2 separate regions of the Homo sapiens genome follow, and region 1 is linked to region 2. The links come from fine-mapping of genetic effects on gene expression. A gene starts in region 2. The other region holds a variant in brackets. All regions are shown on one strand. Distances are from middle to middle.

Region 1 (2,916 bases), 33 kb before region 2:
CAGGAGCTTGTAGGACAGGTTTCCTGGATCTGGGGCTCTGACCTCCGACAGAGGCACTAGCTGGAGTCCACTGCTCCTTCAGACAGATTGCAGTGAGGTTCTAAGAGCAAGGAAAGAAGCTGAAGACAGAAGATGACTAGTGCTGCCCAGAGAAAGGCCACTGATAGGGTGACACCTAGAAACAGCAAGCAAACAGAAAGAAGGGAAATCCCCATCCCTCCTCCTGCAGTCCAGAGTCCCTATAGGGCATCCTAAGAGGAAGCTCACAGACCAGAGCGAAATGCACTTTTCAGAGTCTTGGCCCCTGCATCACACAGCAGAGTGTACAGGGCGGGCTATGTCACTGAGATTAATCCAGCACAGGATCAGACAATCTCTTGGGTCAGAAGAGCAGCAGAACTTGCATTGGTAAACACAACAAGCTTAAAAGCTTCTGTTTTCATGACTATGTTTTTTGGAAGGTCAAATAAGTTTGGGAGAACTATCTTTACAATTTGGAGTATCACAAAGTCTATTAGTATATTAAAGGATCAGAGAAGTCTTGCAGTAAAGGAACTTGCTTTATTTTGTTTAATTATTTCTAAAATTTATTCAGTGTGAATTCCTTTCCCCCCAACACACATATAATATTCCTCAGAACATGCAAACTGTTCTAAATGCTGCTGTAAAAAAAAGTTACTAAAGTCCAAACTGCTTTTGTTGGTTTGCTTCTAAAGCTAGGAAAAAGAGAAAAGAATATGTATATAGGTGAAATCAAATAATTGGGAAGAAAAACAGAATATCTGCAAAGCATTAAATCCAATTCTATTTTTTTCATGCTTTCTGATATCTGTAAAAGGGAGATCCTCCTCTGCCCTTTACCACACCATTAGAGAAAAAATTCCTCATGTAATCCTCAGATAAATCATGAACCACAAGCTATAACAAAGACCACCAGCTTCAACCAAATCTAAGAGAACAGGGTAGTGTTACGTGAATCTGTACAAATAAATCACACAGCACTCTGAGATGCCCAGCTGCCTTAAACATATAGGGTAGCTTGAAAATTATCCTGCAGAGCAAAGAGTGGCTGTATTTCTACTCAAGAAGGTAAAAAGAAACTCTACTCTCTCCCTTTCTATACATTTTAGGACTATGACTAGTTTCCACTCCCTCCATGCCTGCCTCAGACAGGAGGAGGCACCTGACAGAACCGAAACCTAGAGTGTGGCACACGGTAAACTCTGGGGAGCTGGGCTGGAAGGTCATGTAGACACATGGGCTGAGGCCAGCATTCAGCAGATACCGGCGAATGGGTAGAAAGTGGGTAGAAAG[A/T]GTTATCCACAAAGACAGATACTGAGAGAAAAGGAATGACCGGGATGGAGGGAGTGGGGAGAGACAGGAGAGGAGGAAGAAGGAGGAGAAGGAAGGGAGGAGAGGGAGGAGAAGGAGGAGTAAGGGGAGGAAGAGGAAGAGGAATCTCCCTTTTATAGATGTCAGGAAACATGAAAGAGGAAGGAAGGAAGGAAGGAAGGGAAGGAGGGAGGGAGGGGGGGAGGAAGGAAGGAAGGAAGAAAGAAAGGGAATAAGGAAGGAAGGAAAGAAGGAAGAAAGGAAAGAAGGACCTGTAAAGTAGATAGAAAGAGGGAGGGAGGGAGGGAAAAATTACTGCTGGCTGATTTTCCAGATCCCATGATACTGGCTCTAAATTCTTCCTACTCAACTAGAATGCTTCATTTGACAACATCACAATGTGCAACCACTATATGGATCCTCATCAAGTTATGCTAATCTGGCTTTTACCTCTAAGTTGGATTTTGTCCGTGAAGACAAGTGATTCCTATCTGGAAATCTGGAAGTTTCTTAAGCAAACAGTTTGAATTGATTTTATTTATTTAATTGACTATTCCATTCCTTATCAAAAAACAGGTACCAAAAAGTTCCAAACAGTTGAATGTAGATGAAAGTAACCATCACATGTCTTCAACACACCTCCTTGCATGGTGATGTATTACCTACAGACCTGGCATGACACTAATTCATACTATGATAAAACATCAAGGCCCAATTCTAGTGCTAAGAAACTTTCTGTCCCATTCATTGGGAAGATGATCAGACAGAAGACCCTGGAAGTTTTGCCTCTTATACTCACATAACAAAGGGCAGACATTCCTGGGGCAGGGATGAGAGAAACCAACTCTAGTTAAATATCTATGGTTCAAGGCATTGAAATTTGCTATTAATGCCCCAGCATAGTCTCTTTTATTGGATCTGGCTTCACTTTACAGGCAAAGCAATACCTCTGACTATTGCCCCAGCAAGCTTCCAATCACAGACTTCTCTAAAGGTGACTTATAAACAGGTACTTATATTTGTGTATTTTTGCCTTAGAGTACACACCACATCTTCCACCTTCTAAATTCATTGGGTTTGTCATGCTTCACTTTCATTGGGTTCTTGCTGTTTCTACCCTTTTGGAATTAATCAGTCTGCTTTCCAAACTCACTTTCAGCTGGAGTACAGACTGAAACTTCCCTTTGCCCGCTGGTCCACAGTCAAAGGCCAGGAGCCCTGCCCACTCCCATGCTCAGTTCCCCTGCTTGAACCCCAGCCTATGCCACAGGAAGTGGTCCCCCAAATAACATGCAGTACCCCTTTGCCCATCAGCAGAACTCTGTTTGCCTTTTCTCTTTAACAATTTTAAACATACTTCTTTTCTTTTTAAAAATTATTTTAGATTCCAGTGGTACCCGTGCAAGTTTGTCACATGGTGGTACTGCATCATGCTGGGGTTTGGGCTTCTACTGAACCCATGATCCAAATCATGAACATTGTACCCACTAGGTAGTTTAGGAAGTTTTTCAAATCTTGCCCTTTTGGAGTCCCCACTGTCTATTATTTTCACCTTTGTAAACATACTATTTTCTAGTCTCTTTC
Region 2 (2,916 bases):
TGAACTTTATAATCTATTCTAAGGGGCAGTACAGCATAATGGTGGGAAACAAAGACACTAGAAACACACTGCCAGGGTCTCGCCATTTTCTGGCTGTGTGTGTGATTTGGGGCAGGTTACCTGACATCTCTGATGTTCCCCTCGTTTATAAAATGGGACTAATAATAGTACCTACTTCATAGGGTTGGAAGGAGAGTGAACGAGTTCAGACGTATGAAATGCCTGGCACACAGTAAGAGCACAGTAACTTCTTAGTGGTACAACCATGACTTCGGCTATCATTTAGTTGAATACCTGCATTAGTTATTTAGTTGAGATTATTTGATATTGAGTTGATTGGTTGATGAACTAATTCTCTAGACCAGGCTTTTTCCTAAGCTCTAGGTCTATTTAACCAACTGCCTACTAAACATTCTCAACTGTATTTAGGGTTCCTTAAACTCAACGTTCACCAACTAACTCATTTCTATTTTCCCACTCCTCCTCCAGCCAAAACTTTTGTATTCTTTTTCCTAGATGAATAACAGTTATTCCTTTTATATCCTTTTTCTAGATGATTAACAGTATCATCGTCCAAAGGCCCAAGCCTTTGAAAGTTAATAAAATTTCCTATCTCTATGCTAAACATAAACACTTAAGTGGTCATCAGGTCTTTTCAGTTTTCCTTCCTATCTTCCCTTCTGGACTACAGCAAAAGCCGGTATTTTCTGTCTTTAGTCTCCTTTCCTCCCAGGAAACCATCCTTCTTTCACACTGCAGTCAGGCTTTTCATCCTTTTTAATATGTTTTCATCATCTTTCCATTCATCTTCACGATAAAAACAATTTTTTTAGCATGGCATATGAGGTAATTCATCAATTTGCTGCTTCTTGTCTCTCAAATTTCATCTCCTACCACCTTTGGTTTTAGCCAAATGAAACCACCTATAATCTCCGAAGTTGTCACCCTCTTTTTCACCTTCATGCCTTTGTAATTCAACCTGGAATGCCCTTGCCTCAATTGTCTGTCTAGATAATTCCAACTCCATTACAATATAATATCTCTAATTCCCAAAACACTACTCCTAATCGAATTTTTTAAAAACCTAAACAACAGTTAACAGATGCTAGAATTCCAGTATAGTTTGCTGAAAACAGAATAAAATTTCTTTTGTGCTTTTATTTCTAAGGCACAGAATACATTTCTTTTTAGTCATCATTTTAGCTTTCCATTGACTACTAATGAGTCTTTGGGTGAGAAATGGAAGGTGAATTGGAACGTATCTTCTACCAGGATTTTGTAACAGATCTAGATGGCTAGGAAAACTGTGAAAGGGGAAGAGGTGCGCAGCTAGCCATTCCCCACTTTCCTCTTCTCTCTCTCTCTCTCTCTCACACACAGACACACAAACACACACACACACACACACACACACTTTTCTTAAGGGAAAAATCACTCTGTGTTCTTTTAAAATCCCTCAGGTTTTATGTTTTATTGCTACCAGAGTCTGCCTCCCTGAGGTTCTTGTATAGACTAGTTATTTCCCTCTGTAAAGAAGCTGTTCTATTCGTTCTCGCCTGGTTTGGAACAAACTGAACACTTCCAAAGGAGGCAGTCCTTGCAGCCTTGTCTCCTTCCACTCCCCTCCTCCCCACAGTCCTGGCTGGAGCAGCGAGTCTGTCGATCCCAGGCCAGAGACAAGGCAGACAAAGGTTCATTTGTAAAGAAGCTCCTTCCAGCACCTCCTCTCTTCTCCTTTTGCCCAAACTCACCCAGTGAGTGTGAGCATTTAAGAAGCATCCTCTGCCAAGACCAAAAGGAAAGAAGAAAAAGGTATGTAATTTTTTCTCTATAAAAAACATCTTATGTCAGTTGTTCTACTCCAAAGTATTACTGTAGATTAGAGCAGAAATGTATGTATGTGTTGAGTCAGAAGAGAAAGACAGAGATCCTCTGAGGAGATGATGCAGGCACTTTGAAAAATATGATGCTTCCTAGTAGAAAGGCAAATAATCAGATTAAAAAAGAACAGAAAATGTATATTTCTTGACTAGGAAAGTCATTTCATTACAGGTTTAAAAAGAGGCAGATTCTTCACTATCATTTATTTAATGCCCAAATTTACTCTGAATGTTGTCCCACACAACAGGACTTATCCCAGTCCTCAGAACTATGTGAGGATGATAAAGTATATAGGATTGTTTTAAATGCAGCAGCTATATTACCTACACTACATGAAGTTAACTGCAACATCTAAGAAAGAAAATGTTTTTTGCTTTTAAAAATCCTGATTTCTGAAAAGAACCTGGTACAAATGTGTGATACAAAGAGGGAATTCATTGAATTCATCCTTGGTGTCCATTCTTGGAACACAACAGTGTCTGTACTGCTAATATAAAGAGAACACTTTTTCCCTCTGAGACTTAGAAAAATTCCTCTTTAAAATTCCTTAACTTAATTACACAGGCTATGAAAAGCTCTCCCAAATGCTGGTCCTTTTCTCCAGTGATGATGATTTACTGTGTCCAGGAAAAGAAGGAGAATGATGCAAGACTGAATATTAATATCATCTTCTGGCATGCTCTAAAAGCCTGATCACTTTTAGGGAGGATGTGGATTTTGTTTTTCTATGGATGAAGGTATCTTAGATATTTAAGATGATATGTCTGTTTTAAGGATCTTTAAGCAGCTTATTCACTTTTTAATACTGCTTCTGTTCTTTAACACATACTTTGGGAAATTTCACTTTGGGACTCAGTCATTCTAACAAAAACATTTTCTAAGGACTCAGTCATTCTAACAAAAACGTCTTCTAAGGCAGCTAATAAGAAAAAAAGAGAACTTTAAAAAAACAGTGATTTTCATCCTCCAAGAGAGATGAGTGGAAAACATCACAGACTGGGCAGCAATTTTAATCTCTCCCAACTATAATTTTGA

Which allele goes with the higher level. Alleles are on the strand shown, and positions count from the first base shown. SD is a standard deviation of normalised expression in the study named.
For the expression in spinal cord of the gene that starts at base 1,764 in region 2, allele A in region 1 goes with a lower level than allele T (small effect, 0.32 SD a copy in GTEx).

What was found. PIP is the estimated chance that this variant, and not a neighbour inherited with it, causes the effect. A credible set is the group of variants that fine-mapping cannot tell apart.
Region 1: its variant is the best candidate, but not a certain one, in a credible set for the expression of SCRG1 in spinal cord (GTEx, PIP 0.57).

The regions. Positions count from the first base shown.
Region 1 is chr4:173,430,916-173,433,831 of GRCh38, reverse strand. It overlaps a transcript of SCRG1 not described here and the pseudogene LOC124900814. Among named protein-coding and RNA genes, the nearest start is that of SCRG1, 33 kb to the right of the region's middle. The variant A/T (reference allele first, on the strand shown) is at 1,315.
Region 2 is chr4:173,397,964-173,400,879 of GRCh38, reverse strand. SCRG1 (stimulator of chondrogenesis 1) reads left to right here and starts at 1,764. Exons shown (of 3, transcript NM_007281.4): 1 at 1,764-1,812. The region is part of intron 1 of LOC112268474 (a long non-coding RNA gene); the gene reads right to left.